Homo sapiens: one gene and its partners. The protein of the gene in region 4 purifies or fractionates together with the protein of the main gene of each other region. This does not show direct contact. Each region holds a gene or a part of one and is shown on either strand. Other genes may lie near its edges. The genes, in order: IARS1, SPTBN1, RBM25, TAL1, SATB1, SSBP1 and ETS1.

What was found.
Region 1: the proteins of TAL1 (region 4) and IARS1 purify together in Homo sapiens (affinity purification with mass spectrometry; one large-scale study listed by BioGRID and IntAct). This does not show direct contact.
Region 2: the proteins of TAL1 (region 4) and SPTBN1 purify together in Homo sapiens (affinity purification with mass spectrometry; one large-scale study listed by BioGRID and IntAct). This does not show direct contact.
Region 3: the proteins of TAL1 (region 4) and RBM25 purify together in Homo sapiens (affinity purification with mass spectrometry; one large-scale study listed by BioGRID and IntAct). This does not show direct contact.
Region 5: the proteins of TAL1 (region 4) and SATB1 purify together in Homo sapiens (affinity purification with western blotting; one study listed by BioGRID). This does not show direct contact.
Region 6: the proteins of TAL1 (region 4) and SSBP1 purify together in Homo sapiens (affinity purification with mass spectrometry, with the first as the bait; one study listed by BioGRID). This does not show direct contact.
Region 7: the proteins of TAL1 (region 4) and ETS1 purify together in Homo sapiens (co-immunoprecipitation; one study listed by IntAct). This does not show direct contact.

The regions. Positions count from the first base shown.
Region 1 is NC_000009.12:92,245,026-92,249,217, reverse strand, and holds part of IARS1 (isoleucine--tRNA ligase, cytoplasmic), read left to right. Parts: intron 1-1,666; coding exon 1,667-1,841; intron 1,842-4,146; coding exon 4,147-4,192. UniProt on the Homo sapiens protein: Catalyzes the specific attachment of an amino acid to its cognate tRNA in a 2 step reaction: the amino acid (AA) is first activated by ATP to form AA-AMP and then transferred to the acceptor end of the tRNA.
Region 2 is NC_000002.12:54,459,124-54,463,315, reverse strand, and holds part of SPTBN1 (spectrin beta chain, non-erythrocytic 1), read right to left. Parts: intron 3,979-4,192; exon of another isoform or gene 3,908-3,978; intron 1-3,907. UniProt on the Homo sapiens protein: Fodrin, which seems to be involved in secretion, interacts with calmodulin in a calcium-dependent manner and is thus candidate for the calcium-dependent movement of the cytoskeleton at the membrane.
Region 3 is NC_000014.9:73,096,353-73,100,544, reverse strand, and holds part of RBM25 (RNA-binding protein 25), read right to left. Parts: intron 3,631-4,192; coding exon 3,445-3,630; intron 1,166-3,444; coding exon 1,112-1,165; intron 879-1,111; coding exon 795-878; intron 1-794. UniProt on the Homo sapiens protein: RNA-binding protein that acts as a regulator of alternative pre-mRNA splicing. Involved in apoptotic cell death through the regulation of the apoptotic factor BCL2L1 isoform expression.
Region 4 is NC_000001.11:47,221,692-47,225,883, reverse strand, and holds part of TAL1 (T-cell acute lymphocytic leukemia protein 1), read left to right. Parts: coding exon 1-441; coding exon of another isoform or gene 442-618; intron 619-1,785; coding exon 1,786-1,880; intron 1,881-4,192. UniProt on the Homo sapiens protein: Implicated in the genesis of hemopoietic malignancies. It may play an important role in hemopoietic differentiation. Serves as a positive regulator of erythroid differentiation.
Region 5 is NC_000003.12:18,397,274-18,401,465, forward strand, and holds part of SATB1 (DNA-binding protein SATB1), read right to left. Parts: intron 18-4,192; coding exon 1-17. UniProt on the Homo sapiens protein: Crucial silencing factor contributing to the initiation of X inactivation mediated by Xist RNA that occurs during embryogenesis and in lymphoma.
Region 6 is NC_000007.14:141,747,850-141,751,172, reverse strand, and holds the end of SSBP1 (single-stranded DNA-binding protein, mitochondrial precursor), read right to left. Parts: intron 863-3,323; coding exon 819-862; 3' UTR 685-818; downstream 1-684.
Region 7 is NC_000011.10:128,580,829-128,585,020, forward strand, and holds part of ETS1 (protein C-ets-1), read right to left. Parts: intron 4,101-4,192; exon of another isoform or gene 2,169-4,100; intron 1-2,168. UniProt on the Homo sapiens protein: Transcription factor. Directly controls the expression of cytokine and chemokine genes in a wide variety of different cellular contexts. May control the differentiation, survival and proliferation of lymphoid cells.

The DNA of each region.
Region 1 (4,192 bases), on a different chromosome or scaffold from region 4:
GCAAGTGACAAGTACCCTCGCATGTAAAAAGTCGAAGCAATAGCATAGGGAGCCTCTCTCCACCCCATTTCTCCCTGGAGTCTCACTTCCTGGCTGCTTCATAATTTATTTAATTACTGTCCCGTTGTTTGACATTTAGGTTTCTGATTACAAACAAAAGCTTTGTGTGTACATATATGCATATATCAGTGTATGGATATTGGATAGATTCCAGAAGTGGAGTTTTGGGGTCAAAGTTTATAGTGTCAGTTGTCTTCCTAAACATTTTTATTCCATGATATTTTAAAACATCTTTATTCCATGATGTTTTAAAAACGCATATGTTTTACCTCATCTTCTTTGTGATGATAGAAAACAAATATTTTTTAAAATTTCATTGTTTATTCTTTTCACAGGTGATATTTAAAATCATTATTATAGAAAATGTTAATTTCTATATTTGGTTTTCAGTTGCTTGAAAGTTGCAGAGAAATATTAGAAACCAAAAGTTAGATTTTAAATTCTGACATTAGTACCTGTGGCTATGCATAAAATAGAAATTTTTTTTTTTTTTTTTTTTTTTTTTGTGACAGGGTCTCGCTCTGTCACCCAGGCTGGAGTGCAGTGATGTGATCTTGGCTCACTACAGCCTCCATCTCCTGGGCTCGGGCAATCCTCCCACCTCAGCCTCCCAAGTGGCGGAGATTAGGCATAGTAGTACAGGCTTTTGTAGAGATGGGGTTTTGCCATGTTGCCCGGGCTGGTCTCTAACTCCTGAGCTCAAGTGATCCTCCCACCTCGATCTCCCGAAGTGCTAAGATTACAAGTTTGCGCCACCACACCCAGCTGAAAAATTTTGAAATTAACTACTTCACTTAAAATGAGATTAATTAATGTAGCTAAATATAATGGCAAAACTAAACATTCCGTATTATTTGCTTCAAGCTGTTCTCATTTTCCCATCCGCTACTGTGCCATCACCATCCCTGCCGCATCAGTAATCCTCAGTAGCATGACTGAAGCATGAAGTGTTCTGTTTAACTGATCTTCTGCTTAGTTAATAGTTAACCTTGTGGTACTCTGCAATTGCTTGCACAAAGGTTACCTCTGAGGGATGAGGTTTATATTTCTGGGTCTGGAGTCCTTTTTCTGTTATGCTCAACTGTCTTGATAGATCTTCATAACAAGCATTTTCTTCTTACCATACAAATCACTGGTTTTTAAGCATATTTATAGAATGGTACAACTATCACCATAGTTTTAGAACATTTTCCTCGTCCCAGAAAGAAAGCCAGTATTCATTAACATTCACAAACCATTTTCCCCTCAATATCTGACCATTTCCTGGCATCCACGAACCTATTTGCTATCTCTGGATTTGCCTTCTCTGGACATTTCATATAAGTGGAATCATACAATTTGTAATCTTTATGTCTGGCGTGTTTCACCTAGCATAATGTTTCACATTAATTTATGTTGTAGCACATATGAGTGCTTCAGTCCTTCATATTGCCAAATACTCTATTGCATGTGTATGCTGCATTTTGTTTATCCATTCACAGTTGATGGACACTTGAAGTGTTCTTGCTTTCTGGCAGTTAGGAATAATGCTGCTGTGGACCTACATTTTTGTGTGAACATATGTTTTCATTTCTCATTTTTGTTTCCTCTTGTGCATTAACTGTAGGAACTCAATGTTCGAAAAGTTACACTGTCTACAGATAAAAACAAGTATGGCATTCGGCTAAGGGCAGAACCAGATCACATGGTCCTGGGGAAGCGTCTGAAGGGAGCCTTTAAGGCAGTGATGACGTCCATCAAGCAGTTGAGCAGTGAGGAGCTGGAGCAGTTCCAGAAGACTGGTAGGTGTCTACACAGACAAGGGCACCATTTATGTCCTGAGTCTGAGGGATACTTTTTAGGCTACTGTTTGACTTTTAATATCACATCCTTTCCTTTCCTGTCCTGTCGTGTCCCGTCGTGTCCTGTCCTTTCCTTTCCTTTCCTTACTCTCTTCTCTTTTCTCTCTTCTCTCTTCTCTTTTCTTGACAGAATCTCGCTCTGTCATCCATCCTGGAGCACAGTGGCGCGATCTTGGCTCACTGCAACCTCTGCCTCCCAGGTTCAAGTGATTCTCCTGCCTCAGCCTCCCAAGTAGCTGGGATTACAGGCACGTAGTACCATGCCTGGCTAATTTTTGTATTTTTGGTAGAAACAGGGTTTCACCATGTTGGCCAGGCTGGTCTCTAACTCCTGACCTCAGGTGATCCACCCGCCTTCGGTCCCCCAAATTGCTGGGATTACAGGTGTGTGCCACTGCACCGGTCCATCCTTTTCTTAAGTAAAACTTTTTTTCCTGTTGATAAAAATGTTTATTATAAATAATTCTTACAGTTTAGAAAGAAAATAGCTGGGCACAGAGGCTCACATCTGTAATCCCAGCGGCTCACATCTGTAATCCCAGCATTTTGGGAGGCCCAGTTGGATAGATCACTTGAGATCACTACAGGCACATACTACCACACTTAGCCAGATGTGGTGGTATGTGCCTGCCATCCCAGTTACTCTGGAGGCTGAGGTGGGAGGATCCCTGGAGCCTAGGGTGATTTTGTCCTTACTTTCATGGTGCTTGCTGACATTGAAGATTTGGGAAAATAATTATGGTTTTGATAAGTGTTATAAAGGGAAGGTGTAGGGTAACATAAAAACATGTGGGGGTACCTAACCAAATGATGGGATTAGGAAAGGGAAATCAGCCCCATCTTGCTACCCCTATACAGAGCATTTCAGGGTGCCCAGAAATTTGCAGCTCTGCCATGATTAGAATCATACATGGTCTGAGTGTGGCTGTCTGACATCCTGTAACTATCCTGGGGCACAAGCTGTTTATTGTTACGGCTTCCTCTGAAGTTGAAAATCATAAGCTAGGAGATGTCTTGAGAAGAGAGATTTGAGGATTCATAAATCAGATGGGGGAACTGTCCCTAAGATTCTCCAAATATTTAGATAGAATTAATAAAACATAAGACATCAGCAGCTAAACCTCAAGTTATTACTAATTACTAATCAACTCAAAATATTAAAATAACAAAGTGTTACGAGCCTTCAAGCCACAAATCTAAATTGTTCGCCAGATAGCCAAAGCATCAAAAATTCCTGAGATGGCTGGGGGTGGTGACTCATGCCTGTAATCCCAGCACTTTGGGAGGCCGAGGCGGGCAGATCACGAAATCAGGAGATTGAGACTGTCCTGGCTAACACGGTGAAACCCCGTCTCTGCTAAAAACACACACACACACACAAAATTAGCCAGGTGTGGTGGCAGGCGCCTGTAGTTCCAGCTACTCAGGAGACTGAGGCCGGGGAATGGCGTGAACCCAGGAGGCAGAGCTTGCAGTGAGCCGAGATCCTGCCACTGCACTGCAGCCTGGGTGACAAAGCAAGACTCTGTCTCAAAAAAAAAAAAAAAATTCCTGGGCTAAACCTTATTTGAAATTGAAAGCCTAGTTTCTGAGCGTACTGTTCTGCACTGATGGAAAACAAGATCATCTTCAGAACACAGAGACAAAGTAAACATAAAAATGACACCCGGGTGCTCAGAGCCCAAGAAGGTCATCATCAGTGACAACAGTGGGCCTCCCTATCAGCGGGGGTGTTAACATCAGCAGCTGTTCACATTTCTGCCTCCCCTGAACAGGCATGATGCTCAGTACTACACACTGCCCGTCTCATTTTAGCCTCACCACACCTTGCTCAGCAGGTAGCAGAACACCATGTCATACAACCAGCAAATAGTGGACCTAAGTTCACTTTCTCTTTAAAGACTGTATTTTCTTCATGACATCCTGCTGCTCTGTGTTTATGGTGAGCATTTGTTGCCTCTTGGTGCCTTCCCTTAGCTTTGTCATGTCTTTGGACCTGAGAGTTTATATAAAACAGTAGATACTGGTGATGACTTAACTGTCTTCAAGGTAGCATAGTGTAATCTAAAGAAAGTTTGTCATGTCTTGGCTACAACCATGACATGAGTCAGAGGGAAATGATCTCTTGAAGCCTCTGTGGCTTTGTTATTGTGAAATTTTAATCAAGAAGGGGCATAATACACGGGTAGTGGGGCAGCTTGAAGAGGAGGGGAAGCTGATTAACAGTGTAGCTGCTTCTCCATAGGGACCATTGTTGTGGAAGGCCATGAATTGCACGATGAAGACATCCG
Region 2 (4,192 bases), on a different chromosome or scaffold from region 4:
TTGTCATCATCACCAAACATGCTCATTGTCATTATTCAAATTTGAAATCTTTATCACCTTAGCTTAGCTCGTCACCCACTAGGTCCACCTCCCATCCATCCTGCCATCCATTTACCCTACAAATAGCTTCGCATAGGATTGGGCCTTCACAACCATTTTCCCATCTCTCCTCTCCTTGTTCCCTTGGCCACCACTGTAACTTGCTCCCTTTACTTCTGGACCCCCAGTCACCTCTCTCCTGTCTCCTTGCTTCTAGTTTCTTCCAGTCTCACTGTATTCTGAACACTGCCAAGGTGATGAGTTTCTCAAGTATCTTATAATCACAGAATTTAGAAGTGTACAGGAGCTTAAAAACTGAATGCCAGATTTAATCGAGTGGTAGTTACTGCCTAGAACACCATGTCGAGAATATGACTGAGACTATCTCAGCTCAGTGGAAAAAGAGTACCATTACTGATTTTCGATGTCTGCCAGGAACAGAAGCGAGTGATGGCATGTGCCATGTTTTAACCCCCACTATGATTTCATCTAAGTCTTCCATTTTATAAAATTAGATCTGAGACCGGAGGGTTAAAGGTTTGCCAAAGTCACACATCCAGCCTGTTAAAGGTATTTTACCTTCTGTGTATAGTACATAAAATATATTCCATATACTAGAGTATACAGTCCTTTCATTCAGGAACTAATTCTTATTCAACTTTAAGCCAGTCCACAAAACCATAACAACTTCAAGTCCTGGCAAGATAATGTATCCAATAATTATTCATTAAATAAAAAACAATATTACAAAGTAATCTCAGAGTAGCAGTAAAGGAAGATCATTAATACTATAAATGCTTAATGGTCAAAAGAACTGTGTACAAATAAATGTAATTACATTACTTTCAAGAACCAGAACCTAAACTGATAAGGGTTTCTAGTAAGTGGTCTCTTCAGACTGTATTAATCAATATATAAATGCCATTGGTAATGCAGCCTTTTAAAATACAAAAGTTAGAATAAGCCATTTAATAGCTCTCCTGACATAAAAAGGTTTAGGTAGTTTTTGCAAAGCATACCAAAAGGGATCAGTGGGTCATAGTGCTTAGGCAGTCCCAACAGAAAGGAAACAACTGTTATCAACTAAATACGTACTATGTGCCTGGAACTGTACACTGCTGTATCATAACTAAGAGAAACTAATATTATTTTGATTTTTCCAATGAGGAAACTGTGGTCTTGAGTAACTAACTAGCTCAAGGCCAGTACCTAGTGGTAGCCATAAGGCTAGTATACAACACCATTAGGATTTGGGCCCACAACCTGTTTGACTCCAAAACGAATGCTCTTTCCAAACAAAGAAAAACTTTTCTGAAATAAGAAAATTACCCTCACAAACTTTAAAGGACAAAATACTGATTATGACTCTGCTAAATTACAAATAACCGATCATCAAAAGAAATCACAAATTCGAGTTAAGAAAAAAAACACAAGCTGAGAAGTAATTGTCGCAAGACATGTAATCCACAAAGGATTAGTAGTAATCTACATACAGAACTACAAATTAATAAGATAAATGGGTAAAAGACTGAACAGGTACTTCACAAAACGAAGAACCCAAATGGTTAATAATGTAAACAGACATTCAAACTCAATAATCAGAGAAATTGTAAATAAAAATCACAGTGAGATAATGTTTCACTGGACAAGATTTTCAAGCCTGGTATGTGAAGCACTGGCAAGGCTTTGGAACTGTAACACTTATGGCTAGTGGGAACACGATCAACATAATCGCTTTGTAAAAAACAGTTCTACATTCTCTACTAAGGCTGATGATGCATATGCCCTGTGAGCCAGAAAATTTCATTCCCTAGAGACAGCAAATGGGTGTGTGTGCCTCCACATATGTACCAAGAGCCGTGTACAAAAACCACTCACAGCAACCCTTTCACAATAGCAAAAAAACCTGGAATCAATCCAAATCTCCATCTAGAGTACAATGAATAAATAAATCACGTTAGAATACTATACAGCAGGTGAAACTGAATGAAATACAGCCATGAAATGGATAAACCTTGGGAATAGAATCTTAATCTAAATATGTGAGTCAGAAGAATACATAAAGTATAATTTTGTTGATATAAAGTTCAAAATCATACACAATCAAGATTTTTTAAAAAGGATAAACCATAGAGAAGGGAATGATATGCACAAAATCAAGGATATGGGTTGTTTCAGATGGGATGATGGAGGTGGGCTCTGAATGTATAAGGCTCTTCCTGAACTAGCCGGTGGCTGCCTGAGTGTCCCTTGGTTTATGATTTTTATTTTTTTGAGACAGAGTCTCGCTCTTGTCACCCAGGTTGGAATGCAGTGGCGCGATCTCGGCTCACTGCAACCTCTGCCTCCCCAGTTCAACTGATTCTGTTGCCTCAGCCTCCCGAGTAGCTGGGAATTACAGATGCCTGCCACCATGCCCAGATAATTTTTGTATTTTTAGTAGAGATGGGGTTTCACCATGTTGGCCAGGCTGGTCTTGAACTCCTGACCTCAAGTGATCCGCCCCCACTCGGCATCCCAAAGTGCTGGGATTACAGGCGTGAGCCACTGCACCCAGCTGGTTTACGATTCTTTAACATATATTTTAGGAACATTATTTTGTACCTACCAATTAGTTGATTCAAAAAAGAACTCTAAGAAAAGACTGGACGAGAGGGCAGGACATTGACTATATCAGATGACAGACATCAAGATGCCAGAGCAGAGGGAGCAGAGAGGACCCTTTGCTCAGGGGTTAGCTTCCGAGGCTCCAGCTCTGATGTCTCAAAACCAATGCCTTTTTCTTCCAGAGGGGAAAAAGACTGTTTTTCAACTTTAGAGGTGTTTTACAAAACAACCTAAAACACTGATTAATCTAAATAAACCATGGTATATAGGACTCTTCCACCAAGAATTAAAGAACAGCTTTATAAAATAATTTTGTATTAAACAAATAATTTACAGTGAGAGCCTCACTTTTGTCACCACCATCAAGGAAAAAAATGTGCTGATACTTCAGCAAAAGAAAGGAAAATTCAAGAAGGAAACTTTTGATATTGAGGTCCCTTTGCTGAAGGAACAGAATAGAGTTTCTTCATTTAATGTGCATACAACTCACTTAAAGGTCTTGTTAAAATGTTGATTCCGATTGGCTGAGTTCAGAGTGGGGCCTAAGAATCTGCATTTGCAACAAGCTTCCAGGCGATTCTAATGTTGAAGGTCCGTGAACCTCACTATGATAGCAAAGGACATTATGAAAATGCCTTCTCCAGAGATGTTTAAAAATAGAAACACAGGTATATCTAATTGGTGTAATTTCCTTTAACCACTGAGTAGAAAAAAATAGATGATGTTATTCCCACACAATAAAAATTTAAATATAATTACAAGTGCTACCGGAAAAATCAGAGTACTAAACTAGGTCTTTTGCAAAGAAAAGATGCCCTGAGAAAAAGCAAAGACTGAAAATTTACAAGAAAAACCCATGAGATGCTTTACTCACTTCCACAGACCTACAAAGTTCACTCTTCTAACAGGGGTAGTTAGCCCCTTCCTTCTGGAAGAATGGTTTGCATTTCCAATAATGTAGTGAAAGAAACTACGGCTGCCATTAAATAAAGCCCAATTATAATGAAGATACTAGTTACGATGCAACATAATTAAAGGAGCATCATGTCATTGCACGTAAAAAAAATTAGGCTTTAAAATGTTCTATAAGAATATGCTATTAAAAAGAAAAGCTTAAAATTATTTCGACAAAATCCACACTGAATGATTTCCACTAATCATGTCTATGTTAGCAGTAGTAAAATCCTTCCACGTCAAAATAGTACTTCCACATGTAAAGTCATACATTCAAACATCAAGACAAAGCAACCACTCTACAAACCCTTCCAGGAAACTCTGCCAATGCCAAGCCTCTGCTCAGGATGTGTCACAAGTAGAGGGAGGTCTTCTCATTTGCTCTGCAACATCACAGATAGTTGTTACTAGTCTTGCCCAAGAGAAGTTCTTCACAGAAAACCTCAACTGTGGGAGACGACCTAGTGACAGCAGTTCCTTCACTGCCCAATACTTCTCCTCTCAGATGAAGGTTTTGGTCACTCCAGTAATGACAGAGTTACAAAGAGCTTAACCCAACAGAATTCTGCACCTGCTGTGTAAGTCAGAACAG
Region 3 (4,192 bases), on a different chromosome or scaffold from region 4:
CATCATTTTCAACACCAGCGAACATTCACAGATGCACTGTCATTGAGAGAAGCTTCAAATAGGCAAAACTCGTGAGTGGGATTTACTATGCATAAATACCCATTTCCAAGCCAGTTACCCCTTTGCATATTTTTCTGAGGGGGCATCCATAAATATAATAAAAAACAGAAGCTCATACTTACATCCTATTCCTTGTTACTTTCCAAGCTGAGAGTTTCATCTTGCATTAGTCACCATATGATCTCTATCATAATGGTGGGGGTCAATGAATAGATTAGCTTTATGGGAATTTACAGTTCTTCCATGCATCTAAAATTTGGTAAGTCTGGTAACCACTGACCTACTGTTTAAAATCTCCCCCACTCAACTTAAATCTATACAAATATAAAATGTAAATTTTAATCTCAGCTCTAAAGAAAAGGTATTCCTAAGATCAAGTTAAATAACTGCCCCCAGAAATACACTACAGTGTATGTTATCCTGCTGCCCCCTGAATCTAATTTAAGTCTGACCTTGATGTTTATGTTGAAATCTAAAAATAAAATTAGCTTCTATTCATATTAAAGTGAGATGACTGCAGAATAGTCAGTAACTGAAAAAACTAAGCACAACATGTCAAGGACCACTTTAATATGGTATTGGTCTTCTGTTTCTTTTTTCTATCTAAATATCAATTAAACCTATAAAAAACATTTAAAATTATATTCTAATTTAAGGTTGATTTTTTTTGTCTCTTTGCTTTGGATTCTGTAAAAAGTCTAGATTGGTATCAAGTGAAAAGACAAGAATACTACCTTATGTGTGTCTCTGAATTTGCTGATCTCTCGAGATATCAGGTCTCTTTTGTCTTCTTCCATTTCTATAGCATTTATATCCTCCTAAAAGAAAACGGGCACAGGAGGGAATGAATAAAGAACACCCTACTTCAATATAAACAGTTAAAGGTTAGATATTCTGTATAGGTCTCAAAGAGTAAATAAGTAAACAGAATATCCACAATAACAAATCTAACAATCTAAAGTTAAATAGTGAAAAATCAGATAGACAAGAATGACAAATCAACAATCAGCAGTAAACACAGGTATTGTCAAAGCCTACAATTTAAACTAACCTTAGTGATGAGTGGATAAGGGATCAGTGGGGCCACTGGAAATCTGCGGAAAATCTGTGAAAAAATCCACCAAGAATCTTTTTTAAAAAAGAAAAACAGAGCTCATACTAATCTGCAAAGCAATGCCCTATACATTTATGACGTGAACAATACAGTACACTTCTGTGATGCTTTCTTGATTTCAAATTACTTGGGAATAGAAGTGATTTCACTCTTTTTACAATAACTGATCACACACTACCCTCCTCTCTGGATACTCCAACACCCCCAAGAAATGGAAATATAGAAGGTGCTCTCATAGTAGCAGGGCTTTCTAATCATACCAACAATATTTACCCATAACTCCTGCCACAGAGGAAGAATTTATTATCTCCTCCCAATCCACATCAAACAAATATGTTATTTTTCTCCTTTCCCACTAATGAAGAAAGAGGAAGAATGAATTCTACAGGCCTCAATTACCCTGTACCTTACTGACCCTACCAATTACCATTCCTAACAGAATACACCTCCTTAGAAAAGTTATGGGTCGGGCACGGTGGCTCACGCGGATCACGAGGTCAGCAGATCGAGACCATCCTGGCTAACACAGTGAAACCCATCTCTATTAAAAATACAAAAAAGTAGCTGGGCGTGGCAGCAGGCACGTGTAGTCCCAGCTACTCAGGAGGCTGAGGCAGGAGAATCGCTTGAACCCGGGAGGCAGAGCTTGCAGTGAGCTGAGATCGCAGCTGCTGCACTCCAGCCTGGGCAAGTGAGTGAGACTCCGTCTTGGGTGGGGGTAGGGGCGGGAACAAAAAAGAAAAGTTCTATGACCAAACGAGGAAACACATACCAAATAATAAAAATGTATGTATCTGGCCACAAAGAAAACTGAATATGGCCTAAAAAGGCACTGAAATTTAAAATAATATAAAATGTAACCATCCATTCATAACTAATCATAATATATATACCACGTAGTACTTTTTTATTACATAATGCATGCATATAAAACACGTTGAGCCAGCTATGAGTGATTCACACTTGTAGTCCCAGCACTTTGGAAGGCTGAGGCAGGCAGATCATTTGAGCTCAGGAGTTCAACACCAGCTTGGGCAACATGGTGAAACCCTGTCTCTACAAAAAATACAAAAATTAGCTGGGTATGGTAGCACATGCCTATAGTCTCAGCTTCTCAGGAGGCTAACACATGAGGATCACTTTAGGATGGGTATTCAAGGCTGCAGTGAGCCGTAATTGCGCCACCATCCTCCAGTCTGTGTGACAGAGCAAGATACTGTCTCAAAAACATAAATAAAACACTTCCAATATTTGTGGGATTTTTTTTCTTACTTTATAGAAGGGTCTCGCTCTGTGGCCCAGGCTAGACTCAAGTTCATGGGCTCAAGTAATTCTCCCCTCAGCCTCCCAAGTTGCTGGGACTACATGTGTCAGCCACCACTTCTGGCTTCTTCCAGTATTTTTAAAAGAACACTTCCTATAATTTATCTAAGTTTATCCAAAGGAAATAAGTATGAGAAAACTAAACCTTTTCTTTCAACCTGGACAATTAGCTTAGGGCCACAAAGAGGTAGCAATCAATTCACTGAGGAGGAATGTTTCAAGTTGTACTGCTCTTTCAGAATCCTCCAGTTTGATTATTCAATACCATTATTGTTCAGGGAGGGGAATGTGACATAGTTTCTTAAGGAAAGGCAGCTAAAAATTAAGAGTGGGTGGAAATCTTCAGTGAATCAGATCTGGTTTCTTGCTTAGAACAGAGACAGAACAACCATAGGCAAACAAAGTAAAATAGGGGCCGGGCGCAGTGGCTCATGACTGTAATCCTGGCACTTTAGGAAGCGGAGGCAGGAGGATAACCTGAACCCAGGAGTTGGAGACCAGCCTAGAAAACATAGTGAGACCTTGTCTCTGTAAAAAAGTTTAAAATGTGGCCGGGCACGGTGGCTCACGCCTGTAATCCCAGCACTGTGGGAGGCCGAGGCGGGTCGACCACGAGGTCACGAGATTGAGACCATCCTGGCTAACACGGTGAAACCCCGTCTCTACTAAAAACCAAAAAATTAGCCGGGCATGGTGGCGGATGCCTGTAGTCCCAGCTACTCAGGAGGCTGAGGCAGTAGAATCGCTCGAACCCCGGAGGCGGAGGTTACAGTGAACTGAGATTGCACCACTGCATTCCAGCCTGGGAGACAAAGTGAGCCTCCATCTCAAAAAAAAAAAAAAAAAAAAAAGAAAAGAAAAAAGAAAACTGACATGTAATCAAAGTATAAGAGTGATATCATAAAAAACAAACGGTAGAAATGATATGTTGTTGTCAGAACACATACGTCCTCCTTCTTTTCCTTCTTCTTCTTCCTGGGGTGAGAATCAGATTCCTGTGAGGGGGCATTTAGCTCACTGGAGTATTCACGAATTAAAACTTCAATAGCCCCTTTAATCATCTGATCTCTCCTCTTTGTTTCTTCATCCAAGGCTTCTTCATCGTCATTAGTGACAGTTTCTGGCCTTGCATTCTTAAACAAAACAGCAAATTCAGGGGAAAGAAAAATCAAGCAAGAAAATCAAAATCACTCTACAACAAGAGTTAATAAACATACATGTTTTCTCAAAAACATCTCTGTAGTCCTATTAAACACAGAATTGGTTTTGTTCTTAACATCAGAAAAGCTTCATTTTTTTATTTAACTATTCCTGAGATACTACTTCATTTTCATTTTCTTTTTCTTAATAGCTAAAAAATTCTGGTCCCTAAATTTCAGGACTAGCACACTATACGACACATCTGCAAACCATTCACAAGTTTTCAGACTGTTTTGCTCAATAGGTACACAAATAGTAACGACTCTTTTAAACAGTTGAAAATTCAGTTACGTAGTAAAGGCAAAATACAATTTTAAGTTAATTGTGATAGCTACCACTCAGAAAAAGCAAAATTGTATGTAGATTAAACAAACAAACAAAAACATCAGATTGCTAAATATACCAAACTGCAAGAATCGGGAGTTTAGGGGCTGTAATGATGGCTTATTTCCTATTTGCTTTCTACGAGTGCTTATAATGCAGGAATACATACCA
Region 4 (4,192 bases):
CGAGCGGCCGCCGAGCGAGGCGGCTCGCAGTGACCCCCAGCTAGAGGGACGGGACGCGGCCGAGGCCAGCATGGCCCCCCCGCACCTGGTCCTGCTGAACGGCGTCGCCAAGGAGACGAGCCGCGCGGCCGCAGCGGAGCCCCCAGTCATCGAACTGGGCGCGCGCGGAGGCCCGGGGGGCGGCCCTGCCGGTGGGGGCGGCGCCGCGAGAGACTTAAAGGGCCGCGACGCGGCGACGGCCGAAGCGCGCCATCGGGTGCCCACCACCGAGCTGTGCAGACCTCCCGGGCCCGCCCCGGCCCCCGCGCCCGCCTCGGTTACAGCGGAGCTGCCCGGCGACGGCCGCATGGTGCAGCTGAGTCCTCCCGCGCTGGCTGCCCCCGCCGCCCCCGGCCGCGCGCTGCTCTACAGCCTCAGCCAGCCGCTGGCCTCTCTCGGCAGGTCAGGGGCCAGGGGCCAGGGGCCAGGGGCTGGGCGGGTGGGCAGGGCGACCACCCCCACCGGGGTTTCCTTCTACACATCGGCGGCGGCCTGCCCTGGGGGCCGAGCGGGTGGAGCGCAGGGAGAGGAGGTCGTTTTAAACCCAGTGGCTCTAGAGCCTCAAGCTGGAGCCCCCGAGTGAGTGCCAGTGAGGGAGGGGCCTTCTGTGAGAGAGAGTGTGCGTGTGGCTGCGGGGTGCATGGCTGTGTGGAAGCCGAGAGGAGGACGTGGACACCTTCGCGGGTGCAGGCATGTGGCTGGTGTGCTTGGTGGTGGTGTCGTGGGGGACGGAGAGGAAGGAGTCCCCTGAGCGTGGGTACCAGGAAAGAGTGTGCCTGCATGTGCTTTGCTGTGAGCAGAGGTAGATGTTTGTGGTGTGAAATTCATTCGGAAACTCAGCGCTAGCTGGACAGGCAAGAGATAAGGATCTGAGGGTGGTGGCAGAGGCACCCTCCCCCGAATCTCTGCTGGAGGGCCCGCCTGAGGACTGACCTGTCCCTCCACTCCCAGCCCCTCTGCTCCTAGCCGTGGTCTCTGGCCCCAGCCTGTACTCCGGTTGGTGTCAGGGCATCCGTTTCCCTGCTGGCGCTACTGTGATGATGAGGGAGAGAAGCCATAGGGTTGGAATAGAAACCGGCAGATGGGGCAGGGATAGAGTGTGGGGCAGTCAATGAACCTGGCGGGCACCCGAGACAGAGCTATGGGGAGCTTAGGGTGGGTGAGGGCAGAGAGCTAGGCGGAGCATTTCAGCTGAGGGGAGTCAGGGTTTCCTGTCTGTTGTGTATCTACAGCCCCTTATGGGTGGGGTGAGGTGGGGAGAGGGGACAGTGTGCCCCTTTGTGGTGACCAAGATGCACACCATCAGGTGTGAAGGTTACATTTGCCTGAGTGGGCATGTGTTTGGGAGTGGAGGTGTGTGTGGATTATGTGCTTGTTTCTGGGGCGGGAGAATGGAGAGTGTTTCTATCTGTGAAGTGTGTGTGTGTGTGTGTGTGTGTGTTCATTTTTGTGTTTATTCCATGTGTTATTCACCTCTGCTTCTGCATATGTGCCTGTGTTTGTGTGGAGGGATGTGTGGTTAGGTGTCTTTTCCTCCCTTTGCTTGTTTTATGACAGACAGAGTGAGGGCATTCCGTGTGTATGTGTGTGTGTGTGTCTGTGTGTGCCTATTCCCAGCTCAAGTGTGAAGGGACCAGGGTTGCCCAGAGGTGGGGGGCTCAAGACATGTGGGGAGGATCCCTAAGGAAGCTCTTTCTCCCCTCCCCTCAACATGGGATCTTGTGATCTGCCCGTTCCCTCCCACAGCGGGTTCTTTGGGGAGCCGGATGCCTTCCCTATGTTCACCACCAACAATCGAGTGAAGAGGAGACCTTCCCCCTATGAGATGGAGATTACTGATGGTGAGTCTGCCCCACCCCACCGTTGTACCTGCCCCTCACGCTGGTTAGAGCCCTCTGGAGGAGGGAACATCTGGGACTACTCCGTAGGTATCTCACAAAGATGGGCGGGCCACTTTCCAAACCCAAACTGCCGAAGCCCTTCACCCTGCAGCTGAGCTAGGGCTAAGTAAAGTCCTGGATGGGGCTAGCAGGACCACACTCACAGTCCTGCAAAGAGGAGGCATGGGAGAGAGACACATAATGGCGCTTAGCCCAAACCTCTGGAGTTAGTTCCCAAACCTTTGGAGTTAGTTCCAGTCCCCAGTCCGGGCTCCATTCCTACACTTTGGCAAGGATCCCAAGTGGGCGCAGAATCACACAGTGTCCCCCGATCCCCCATTCTAGGCACTGACCCTCAGGGATTCCCTGCACTTCCTCCCAAGTCTTCCTTAGAGTCTGGAGTCTGCTTCCTCCCTGCAATGGAGTCATCAAGGGTTTTCTCCGAGGTCCCTACACAGTAGGCTCCCCTTGTCTCCCGTTAACACATTCTGGGCTTAGACCTGGAGTTCCCTTCCTGACATCATGGATTCTACCTTGCCCCCTGGATTCCCCGAGAAGGGCCTTGGCACTGCTCCTTTGAGGTACTTGAATATTCCCTGAACTTGCAGGGGTGGTTTGGACAAATGGGAGATTTGGAAGACCCTCGCCATCTTTCCAAGGTTGACCTTGTATAGTAGATTGGTCCCAGCACCAGGGGTAGGAGAGCAGGCACTTCAGAGCTGAGGGACTTTGAGCCAGACCCAGATGCCCCCAGAACTTCAGCTTGGCTGTGGCCTGGGGCTCCTGTAGGAAGGCTGCCCAAGGCCTCAGAGCAAGGCTGGGATTTATGCTCCAAACTGGTGGGAGGAATATGAGTATGGAGCTGGAGCCTCTGGAGTGGAGCCCTCTGTGGTGTTCTGGAGAGGAGCGGGGCTGGGATCTGCACAACAGAAAAGACTTCAAAAGACCCAAGCAGCCTGGGGCACAGGTGTGCAGGGCTGAGAGGCAGGGGTGCCTTCTGCTAGATTAGAGAGGAGTTCTCTAGTCTAAGAGAGGTGGGTGTACCAAACAGGAAGAAGACAGGACCAGCCCTGAAGTTCCCCAGGGATGAGGCATTTTCTACAATAGGCAGAAGAGGCAGAGCATAGGGGCGAGGGTTTGTGGGGTGTGCAGGAGTGTAGGGCAGTCATTATCCATAAGTGTTGGCAATATTTACCGAGCACCTACTCAGTGCTGGCCAGAGAGAGGCAGAGGACACCAGGAGGGGTAGACAGACTCAGGAAAGAGGAAGGTGAGGAGAGGGGGTGGTTCTCTGGAATAAAACCAGAGAGGAATAGGCAGACATGTAGGCGAAGGGTAGGGTATGAGTGTGCAGGATGTGTCTAGGGGACACTGAAATTAGAGATTGAACCCAAAAAGAGTCCATAGAAGTAGAACTAATGCAAGATCTAGAGTTAGGACTTGATGTGGATTCCTGTTGCTGAATTGCTACTACCATGTATTGGACACCTACTATGTGCCATGGACTATGTGTGCTTGATTTCTGTTTATTCCTTACCACAAGCTCATGAGGGCAATATTATTGTTTACATCTCACAGATAAGGAAATTGAGGCTGAGAGAGGTTACCCAGCTTGATCAAGGTCACACAGCTAAGTCCTGGGTCACACAGCTAAGTCCTGGACCACCCTCATAACACTGGTCTTAAGCTTTGGAATAAGTCCTGACCACTTCCCCACCATCTCCCCTTCTGGATGTAGTCTAGCTCCAGCTGTGACAGCAGTCATAAGTACCCCCTCCCCAACTAGGAGCTCCCTCAAGATCACCAGCATTAGCCATGGTGGAGGGACTGTCCTCCCTATGTCACTGCTGAGGGATGCTCTCTGTCTGGCCTGGAGGCCTGAAAGCAGCAAGTAATTTCCTCAGAGGCCGCCCAGGGTAGAACTGCCCTGCAGTTGTGCTGTGTTTTTCCCAGGCTGGGTCTGGCCTTTGGCAAACAGTCAGCTGGGCTAGGGCCTGCTATGGTTTGGAAAGGCAGCTTCAGAGGTACCATGGGCAGGGGATGGTGATCCTTCCCATTAAAAGTGTGTGTGTGTGAACACCCACACATGCATGTGCATGCCTGTGTGCGTGTAGGAGAGAGAAAGAGATGATCAGGCAGTAAGTGTGGCATGGATGAGCTGATTCACAGACTGACCACTGAGGTGAGGTCTGCTTCCATCCCAGCCTCAGTCTCCTTAGCTATAAAATGGGCAGTGGGACTTAGGTGAGGTCTTAGCTCTTCTCCTCTACCTC
Region 5 (4,192 bases), on a different chromosome or scaffold from region 4:
ATGGAAGAAATCATACTCTGCATGAAGAAGGGGGGAGAATATTTGTAATACACAGCAGCACAAGATGGAACACAGAAATGATCTCAATTGTGGCAACTGTATTTTTTTAATCAACTGAGTACCAATACATTTTGGTTTCACACTTTAGCCTAAAGCTTCGACTTCTTAATATTCATTAAGTAGATCATCAAATGCTTATTTAAGTAGAAAGCAACAGCCCACTGAGACCAGTATAAAGCTATCAAACCCACAGACTTTGCTCTAGCATTCATTGAATCTCCATCAATGCCATCTATTACTAGGCTGTCAAACTCACTGGTCCCAATAAATCCAAATACATGAAGATGACTTTATAATTGTGACTCATAAATATACGAGACTTCGCGATTTTTTGACTGGACTCTACATCTTTTCTACTCAAAGTATAGACCAGGGACCAGCAATATGGGCATCACTTGGAAGCTTGTTAGAAATGCAGAATCTTGGGCCCTACCCCAGACCAGTGCACTTAGCAGCTGAATTTTACCAAGATCCCAGGGGATTCACATGTATATTAAAATTTGAGAAACAGAACTTGCACTTTCCACTCTATTATTTGGATTTAAAGTGGACGCGCATTAACACTGATCAAAGGTTAACTGACCGTATTTGAGAAGAAACAAACTATTCACAGAGATCCTCTATCAAGAGAAAAACATTCTGCAATCTTATTACTGGCTTCATCAATAGTAAAGCTTAAGTTTTGAATTTCAAACCGATCATAAAAATTTTAAATTTATACATTTCATGCTTCTAAATTTCTCAAGGATACCACAAAAAGATGACCTATCGTGACTTATCTTTATCCTGCTTTTAATAAATGCCCGGAAAACTGTCAGCCCTTTAACATACAAAAATGAAGAAAAACATGATTTTAATGAATCACTAGGAGGGTTTCTTTTTTTAAATCATTTTCAATCTTCCCAGCAAATTTTGGTTACGGTAATTTCAATGACTAAATTCATGGTCCATATTAACCTGTTACCCATATTCTCTAGTAACAGCTAACTTAATTTCCTACCGAGTCTTAGGAGTAAGATTTTGTAGCACCAATCTATCCCTCACCCCTATGTGCAGAAACATGAGAACTCACATTTCAGACATCAGTTGGTCTATGGTGAAATAATTTATAGAAGGCAGCATTGTTCAGGAGGCAGTGAACAACCAGAAAAGCCAGTTTGGGGACAAAAGTATTTTTATATAATTATCTTCTTTAAGTTACCTCTAATGTAAAGCTCTTTCAGTTATTATTCATTCTCCTGACATCCACTATCAGTGTTAATTCTGTAGCATGCACACATTTCTGGAATATGTAAATTTGGGGGATCTCTAAAGAACTTCCAGTGAAGGATAAGCTGGAGTCGCATTATTTATGTAAAACACAGCTATCTTTCCTAAGAGGCACTGTGATATCTTTTTTTTTGACACTCTCTATAGTCATTTTCACATTTTATATCTCTAAAAAGACATTCTTAATGTGTTCATGATGCTCTGCCATTAATCCAATAGCTTGCAATTTCACTAAGAGCCTCCCACAGTCCACAGTGTAAAAAGACACTTAGCAAAGTTGCCAAAACCAGAGCCAGAAGATTACCTGATCTGTCAGCTTCAATCTCACTTACTCTCTTGTAATAAGGGATCAATAAAGTCAGACACTAATAAAAACTATTGAGATCGCTGATGGATAATGGTGATTCTTCTGCAAATGGATGACAGTTGATGTTCTTCCACTCTGGTCCAATTTTTAAAAAAATTATTACTCTTTATCTAGACATTCTGGCAGTTCCTTAAATGTTAATAATACACATGAGTTCTAGATGTGGTTTATGTCTTACTTTTTAGAAGTGTATGGAATATCCAAATTTTGCCGAGGTTTTTGACAAACATCCAGTCTACTCCAGTTTGCCAACAGTTCTATATATGAAATTTGCTCTTTGCTGCACACCTACTATATGCCTGGCTGGTAGTAAGGATGCAAAGATGGCAGACAGCCTCTGCCTACAAAGATGAGGCACCTGTCATCCAAAGATGGCGGACAGCCTCTGCCTACAAGAAGTTTACTATCTATTAAGAACACAGATATGTAAATAGATCATCTCAATTTAATGTGATTTGGTATATCAACAGTGGAAAATGTATAGGGGACGACGGAAGGAAGAATCATCCATGGTGTGTGTGAAAAAATGTCTGAAATAGTTTTATAAAACTAGAACCTATATGTAATAGTGCTATACAGTTTATTATTATTCGTACATGGAAAATAATATCCATATGTGCATCATTGTCAAAGCTTCCCCCTACCCTACTTAACCCTAAATTGGTAGGTTCTGGGCTTAAGTGCTTTTCTGTCACATGGTGTATGCTTAGGAAACTCTGATTAATGTAAATAATAGCCTAAGCAAGACTTAAATCAAAAGGCTAATCCGTAACTTATAATGCATGACAAAGCAACTTTTTGGATTCCCTATCTTTTTGTGCTTTTGGGTGACTGGGAAATATTTCCTAATTCAGGTAACTTGGAGTCATGTCTATTTTTATTGGACAATATGCAATAATCTGTCCAATTAGATTGCTCCTATAGCCACTTCATGAGGTGTATGTGTGTGGGCGTGGGCGTGTGTGTGTGTTTCAGGTGGTAAAATTCCTACTAAAGGCTTAGGCATAGCATTGGAGTAGACCAGCCAGCCGGTTTCAATGGCAGGAAAGAGACTGCAGAATTTTGTGGTGCACATGGCATTTGAAAAATCATATACAGTAGTGTAATCTTAAATTTAGAATATCAGGAAAAAAACACGTAATGTTTTGATAACACAAATAAAAAAGTCATGATTGGTAAAATTTTCCTAGGTGGTGGGATGTACAGATAGTAGGCCAAGTTCCATGTTAGAAAGGCTTGGGATTCTTGTGTCACTTAAAAGGAGGTACTGGTTTAAAAAGATTGCACTAAGCTGTGAGTTCACGTAGGTCTGGGGCACCATATTATTTTCTAGCTCAATGCCTGGCATGCATTAATATAAACACTAAATGTTCATCTGACAAAACAGAATAGAAATAAACATATATTCAAGTGAGGATGTGTCACACACTGGTAGTATGACCTTGGGTCAAATAGTTGACCATTCCATCACAATTTCCTATGCTAAATGGGAATGATAATAGCATACACCTCATGGAGTTGTTCTGAGAATCCATCAATTCAGGCATTTTTAAAATTCATTTAGCATATACTTAAATTCTACTATGTGCCAAGCACTGGGCAAGTCACTAGGAAAATAATGACTTGAAGAGACATATTATCTGCCCTTGGACAGGAAATAATAGATGTGATACAATTAGCACAGAGCCTGTAACATATTACATATAGACTGAAGAGATATTAATTACTATGACAATCCTTTGCCTCCTCCTCATCACTGGGCTTTCATTATATGATCACATTTCATATCAGGTGACTATGTTTTGAGTATCAGATAAAATTTTCAAATGATATACAGTATTTTGAGTCTTTTTAATGTAGAATGAAGTATACTGATTAAATTATTAAGTTACAAGTTGGTACAAGGAATAGTAAAGGAAAACACCACGGGGAAATATTTCTTTCCTTCTCATACTCCAATTTGGTGGTGTTTTCTGAAGCTGGCCTATATCTGGTAGAAAGCATCAAGAAGGCACACCACTCCTCTGGCTTGGATGCACGGCCCATGCCCTCTCCCATCTCTAGCTAACAGCTGCTCATCCTTCAGGATACAGCCTGGGCATCCTTGCTTCCATGAGGCCTTTCCTAACTTCCCAAACCTCCTGCAGCAGAGCACTCATCCTGCTGTTTATTTTGCACTGGACTGTGGGCCTTAGGTCTCATCTGAATATATCCTGGACTCATCAGAGGGCTGGACACAGACTAGGTGATCAATAAAAAGGGTCACTGAAACAAGCCACCAGAAATCCTCTTCCCCTTTTTTCCCCTTAAAGGTCAAACATAATAGCAGCTTAACTATGACACGAATCTTTCAAATCCATCGCTTTGGCTGTCGTGATAGAAATCATAGTTTCAAGAACCTTTGTTCATTAATTTGCAAGAGATCCCTTCCCAGGTTTTTCAAAATACATCCACACAGATGTCTCGGAAGTTGCAGTGCTCGGTGGTTATGTTATT
Region 6 (3,323 bases), on a different chromosome or scaffold from region 4:
TCTACATAGACACTGTAACAGTCTGATCTCTCTTTCTTTTCCCCACAGATAACAGGGGCAGAGAAAGAACAGAACTACAGCTCCTGTGGCATCACCTGGAGATGAACGATTTCATCTCTAATTATTCAGGTCCTTATTGCTGGTAAACTATGTTTCATCAATGCTACTAATGAAACTGTCCAAAAACAAAAGATATGAAGAAGGTAGGTTAGTCTTAAAGATGTTTAGGTTAGACACTAACCACTGCTCAGCAACTCCCTTCAATTTGAGCTGAAGCTTAGAATCCCATTGGGATGATTCATCTATCAATGCTTACTGAGTGGCTATTCTATGTAAAGCATGGTTTAAAGTGCAGGCAAACAGAAGATTCAGTCCTTGCCTTCATGTCTACAGAGCAAAACGTTAAGAAAATCAATATTTACAAATATGGGATAAATGTCTCACATACAGTGATGCTCAGTAAATTCACTGATTGGACAAATCAATATTGTAATAAAAGTGTATACAAAAACCAGGAGACCTTCCCAAAGCATATTTATCCCTTTGCCATAACACAAATGAGCCTGAAAGTTTACTATTTTGTATACCTGTACATAGAAACCACCCTTAGAAGAATAAACAACTAGTAAATGCCATAACAGATAGTAGCTACCAAGATTATACCACAAAAAGGAGAGCGAGAACGACAGTCAGAAAAAAGATTATTACTCATTTTACGTAAAAGAGTATTTTAATTCTTGTCCTTGGAAGCCATAAAGATTATACATGACTTGGAAATGAGACTGTACCAAATGATGGCCAAAGAAGAATCATCCTTTCTACTCCTTCTCTTTCGTCTGGTCACTCAGAAATATAATATTATCTGTAAAAAAGCCAAAATGTAAATATTAATTTCAGAACTCTTTCTCCATCTCATTCAATAATTCTCCTCTAATACATATAACTTTAGTGCTGTTCATTAAAAGGATTTTAGCCATCTTTTCAAAATATTAAATCACTTGCTATGCTCACGAGAGGTATATATACAGTTGGCATAAGTGGAGCTACAAGTTAGGCACTGGCTGCTTTTCGAACAATTCAGATCTTGTTAGAAGAGGTGGGATATTTCTTGTCTTCCAGTCTTCTCAGAAACAATTTCCTGCAAAAGAACTGGTCACAAAATTGGATGCTTGCAATGGTCAGGCAGATTCCACGACACTAGGCAGCACATCCTCAGAGAAAAGGACAAAAGTGTATCACATTCTACACTCTGGGGGTCTAGAGGAAAGAGTAAGAGTCCATATGTGGCCCTGTTAGCAATGACAGGATTTACTTACGTTTTTAACTTTAAAAATTCAAATAGAAGAAATTTTATTTTTAAATTACAATACAGAATAACTTTTTGTTTTTCCTTTGGAGATGGAGTCTCTGTCACCCAGGCTGGAGTGAAGTGGTGCAATCTCAGCTTACTGCAACCTCTGCCTCCTGGGTTCAAGCGATTCTCCTGCCTCAGCCTCTCCAGTAGCTGGGATTATAGGTGTGCACCACCATGCCTGGCTAACTTTTGTATTTTTAATAGAGACAGGGTTTCACCATGTTGGCCAGGCTGGTCTTGAACTCCTGACCTCAAGTGATCTGCCCGCCTTGGCCTCCCAAAGTGCTGGGATTACAGGCATGAGCACCGCACCTGGCCCAGAATAATTTTAATATACCAATTCTTGGGAACATTTTATGAATCAACATCACAGAGTTAGCATTTTTATCCAAAAATATCAGACGTTGCTCTTAAAATGCTGTTCCAGAGGGAGTTAGCTAAAAATAAACAAAAGAACAGAGGCAAGTAGTAGTCATCCTTCAGTATCCATTGGGGGACTGGTTCCAGGACCCCTATAGATACCAAAATCCACAATGCTCAAGTCCCTGATATAAAATGGTATAGTAATCACATATAACCTATGTACTTCCTCTTATATACTTTAAATCATCTTTAGATTACTTACAATATCTAATACAAGGTAAATGCTATGTTAACAGCTGTTACACTGTATTGTTTCACTTGTATTTTTGTTGTTGTTGTATTATTTTTATTGGTTTCTTTTTTTCACATATATTCAATCTGTGCTTGGTTGAATCCACAGATGCAGAAACAAGGGACATGGAGGAATGACTGCATTTCCTTTATAATTCCAAAAGATTCTTGTAACTATAAAATTATCCACCAAGGACTGAATATTTGTTCATGACCATAGTCTTCCAAAAACTAGAATGTTTTGGTCCAGAACGGTTACTTCAGAACAAACTACTCGAATTAATATCACTGTGGAAAAAGCCAAGAGTGCCATCCACTGGTGGTGGTTTTTTAGTTACAGATAGGATCCCTAGGAGAAAAAAAAATCACCAATAAAACAGATCAACCAATAAACTCTATTTTCTTCAATTCAAATGTCACTGAAGAGCTCTTCAATTTTACCATTAGACATAAACCTAAAGTAAACTGACTGTGCTAGTGGAACCTAGTGACAAGGAAAAAAAACAAAACAGCATATCATCTGAAATGCTTCCGTTTGGCTTATTAGTAACAACTCAATAATCCGAACAATCTAAAGTTTGCCCACACTTGTGGTTTATATTGGGACCCACAGGAGGGTAGGAAAATACCTACACTGCTTTTCAAGGTTAATACACTTTCAAAGAAACTTAGCAGTAAGAAACCATGTGAGCATTCTATACAAATTATAAATTATTAATAAGGTATGGTGGTTAAGACATGAACTCTGGAGCAAAGGAAAGAAGAAAGATAAAAGGCAAATCTAAGAGACTTAAGGTAGAAATCATGTAATATAATGTATGAATGTTTATGAAGTTATCAAGGAAATTTGAACACTACGATATTTAGTAAAAAAATTAACAGTAATTTATTAATATTAGGTGTGATAATAGCACGGTAGTTACATTTTCAAAAAGACACCTTATCTTTTAGAGATCCCTATGGAAATTTATGAATAAACTTATGTCTAGAATCTGTTTCAAAATAATCCAGGTGTAGGTCAAGTCGCTGGAGGCATGGATATAACACTGTCCATCAGCTGACACTGAAGCGAAATGGTAGGAGTTCATTTTACCATTTTTTCTGCTCTTATACATGTTTGACATTTTCCATAGTAAAAAAAAAAAAATTTTTTTTTTTTTTTTTTTTTTGAGAGAGTCTTCCTCTATTGCCCAGGCTGGAGTGCAGTGGTGTGATCTCAATTCGCTACAAACACTGCCTCCTGGGTTCAAGCAATTCTCATGACTCAGCCTCCTGAGTAGCTGGGACTACAGACACGCATTACTAGACCCGGCTA
Region 7 (4,192 bases), on a different chromosome or scaffold from region 4:
CTTAAATGGAAATGAGTCATATCCATCTCCTATTTCTCTAAAAATAAACCCATCTCCTAATTAAGCATAACACTTTCAAGTCCTGTATGAATTGACATAGCTCAACGAATCCTTCTTAGAATATTAAAATGAACTCATGTCATTATAATTTTAAAGAGTATATTGTTTTACCCTTCCTTGAGGAGTAACTCGCTACTATCTCCTGAAAAAGAGAAAGACTAGAAGATGTTTTACTCTGGTATACCATAGCAGTTAAGAAATAAGGAATGCTTCATAGATTATTTTATGCATTTCCTTCTCAGTGGAAACAAATCCCTCACCATACAGTACTGAAATGGCATTGTCAACAATGGACAGAAAGGTCTTGCTTCTCCTAGGCATCAAGGAAATACATTAAAACCTGCCGACTCTTAGGTCTAGGAATCTAACTAAGAAAATGCCAATTCTAGTCTCTGAAACCTTTGAAATACTAACAATCTACACTTTCTAGTCAATCATACTTCTGTCAGAACATCTTCCTGAAGATCAAAGGTAATATTCAATACACTGCCTTACCATAAAAGTGGCCATAGCCTGTGTACAAATGCTATGCCTCAAATCCTGTATTTTACCATGAAATTCAACAAATGATCACACTTGGCCTTAGGATGTACTCCTGAGCCAGAAGCATGGTAAGTACTCATAAATAACTGAATAAATAAATAAGGATTGTGTTTTACTTCGAACCTCAAAACAAAAAAAGAATAAGCTGGAGGAATAATGTAGAGTACTCTTTGCTTTCCAAGAATGGTCGTAATAGAGGCCATGGAATAAGAGATTGTTTTCCAAGTCAAATGCAAAGAAGGGCCACGAGATTAAAAACGTCAACTCTAATCCAATGAATGCTGCCAATGAAACCTCTGAAGAGACTAGCATTTTAAAGAATTACATTACAGACTCTTAGCCTGTGAAGCATGTCAGACATAATCTAGAGTTTAGACTTGGCTCTGGCTCTAAAGGAATTCTCAACAAAACTGAGAGGCACCATAAATAGAAAGAGATATTACAAGAACAATGAGAGGGGACTGGATAGTTGCAATAATGCCCCTTTAAAATTGAACTAAAAGATACCAGCTGCCTTAGATCTCTCAAATCCAGCAAGCAACTTCTTGGACTATGTCTGATTGTGATTTTCATGGTGGAGTTTCATTTGTTTTATTACCCGAAATGTAAGGTTCCAATTTCTCAGTATAATGCTAAACAGCTTGCTAGCATTCTTATATAAAGAGGGATTGTGCAATTCCAGTGAATTTTGGAGTTGGAAAAAATTCATCAATCTTCTCATTTATTTCAATGAACTGAGTCCTAAGAGGTTACGTGTTTAGCAGTGATCAAGAACCCTGGAGTTACATACTATGGGTGAACGTAGAACTGCTTGCTGCGTGTATGGCCATGAGCAAATTTCTTAACCTCACAATCAGTTTCCTCAACTATAAAATGCAGGTAATAATATCAACACTTTCAGGATTATAGAGGAGGATCATACAAAACACAAATACTTAGCAGCATGCTGTATAAATAGTAAAAATGGTCAATAAATAATAATTGTTATTATTGCTATTTTATCAGTAGTGCCTGGCAATTAGTAAGCATTAGTAAATGCTTACTAATGTCACTAATTAGTAACACTACTGTTTTATATTAATTACTTTTTTCTACTGCCCAACATGGCAGAGGTTATTTAAGTGTTAGAGCTAGAACATGGATAGCTAAATCTCTCATCTCTTTTTCTAAAGACTTGTATTCAAGTCATGAAAACAGGATTCCCTTTCATAATCATAGGTTGAGTAGCATTAGTCAAGAATTTTGCAGGAGAAAAGAGCCACAATTTCTGTTTAATGGTAGTCTGTTTGTACCATTGTTATGCATAAAACCAAGAAGTAAGCATTTTTCTTACAGTGGAGAACTAACTCATTGAAAGATTGCATAGCACAAATGGTGAAATATTGCAGCTTCCTGAGTTAAACCAACATCTTTTTGATATAATGTCGATCTTTTGTGGACTTACGCTTTAGCAACTAGATACAAATATAAGGAAGTAGTAAAGCACTGCGGAAAATAGTGCAAGATTTCTTGTTTGTTCATTTTTTTCATTTTTGCTTTTTCATTTGTTTTTGCTTTTTCTTTAGAGCAGTGCCTCCCAAACTGTAATGTGCATATGAATCACCCGGGGATCCTGTTACAATGCAGTCTGCTGCAGTAGGTCTGAGGTCTGGCCAGACATTCCACATTTCTAACAAGCTCCCACGTGGTGCTGATGCCGCAGGTCAGAGGACTTCACTGTGAGTAGCAAGGCAGCGCTGGACTAACTTGGTTGAACTCATGAGTGATTATAACAAGGTAGGTGTTTAGGAGGCAGAGCCCAAGGAGGAACAGGCAAGACTTCTGTGCCAAGGCTGAGCAGATGCTGGTAACCTCAGGTGCAATACAAACCCGGCTGGGGAGAATTGAGTAGCTCAGGACCTGTCAGTGTCTCAGGAGCCATATGCCAGATGCACATCTGCCAAGACTTCTTGCTTTTCCTAAGAAGACATGGTTCTAGTTATTTGGTCCCTTTTATCAAGAAACTGGCAATGGTGCTTTCTCCCATCAACAGAAGTCATTTGGATTAAGGATTACAAGAGGTGCCAAGAGATAATTTAAAAGAGTTATTTGCATTATATGTTTTTTTTTACAATTGTAAAAGACTCACATGTTTTGGAAACTTTTTGTACATTGTTTTGCAAACTTTTATGCATCTGGAATTATTTCAAAGTGAAAAGTTTTTTTTAAGTCTCTAAAAAGACTAAATCTCTTTTAAATCTCTAAAAAGACCAAAATTCTGGAGTTTTCTACCTTTCCACATCTCTTGAAAATTTATATATTTTTTCCTCCCCATTGAGAATATTTTCCTGACATTTGCACTAAATGTTTGTTGCTTACTCTCATGCTAGTAAGTACTACCCAGCCTGTTCCCTCTAAGTTCTGAAGGCAGCTCCAACACTTGATTACTGGAATATGAAATCTATCCTCTTTTGAAAAAAAGGCAGATCAGAAACATCCTTCCCTCACTGCTCTAGATACCATTTTTTTCTACCTGAACTCCCAAAGCATGTATAGGTTATACTACACTACTTAATAATTATATTGTCTTTCATTTTTATCCTCTTTTCTAGTAAAGATTATTGTGTTAATTTTAAAAATGGAGTTTACATATTGTTTCTTCTGTGTTTGGTATGGTCTCCAGCACAAGGCTGGGCATGGAGTAGAAATAAAACTGATATTTGTCAGGGAAGGGACTGACTTACTTACCCAGGAAACTAGGCCTGGGTAGTCTTTCTTCAAAGTCAGTATCTTCATAACAATGAATAAGTAATCCACAGATACCACTTCAGAAAACAGGCTTAATCCAGTGTTCTCCTAGATAAGCAAATCAGTCTAAGCAGAAAAATCTATCCTAAATTTGTGTAAATGTCTTAGAGTTACTTAGATTCCTATGACATGCAGTTCCAATCACAAGCTCTGGGTTCACATTCCATTGGCTCTAATCAGGGTCCACCATGAGTTAACACGGTCATATGACTGAGCCTCAGAGTCCCCACCTGGTAAATGGGGATGACGAGAGTGGAGTGCCCACCTCAAAACTTCATTGTAGATTAAATGAAGCAGTCCCTGCAAAGCACCTAGCAAGGATGTTGGAACATACCAAGTGCTCAGTAAACGTTAGGGCTGAGTATTCCTCCTTAGGTGAAATGAAGAAGAATGGATATGATAACTAGAAAATCATCTACATTAAAAGGTGGAGTTCAATAAGCTATACTTTCAGTACAGCAGGGATAAAGGAGATGAGGAAGCAAAAAGTAAGTTATGTCTTCACATCTAATTTTTCCCAGGATTGAAGAAACTTAAAAGATTTGCCTGAAATGCCACTAAATTGCTGCATACCACATTAATTTTGCTCAAATGCTAAATACTTTATCATTTCCATAATGAAGAAAGAAAGGGAGGAAAGGGAAGGAGGAGGGAAGAGGGAGAGAGAGAAGAAGAAGAAAGGAGGGGAGAGAAAAGAAAGAAAGAGGAAGAAAAAAGAGAAAAGAAAGAAAGAAAGAAAGAAAGAAAGAAAGAAAGAAAGAAAGAAAGAAAGGAAGGAAGGAAGGAAAGAAAGGAAAGAAAG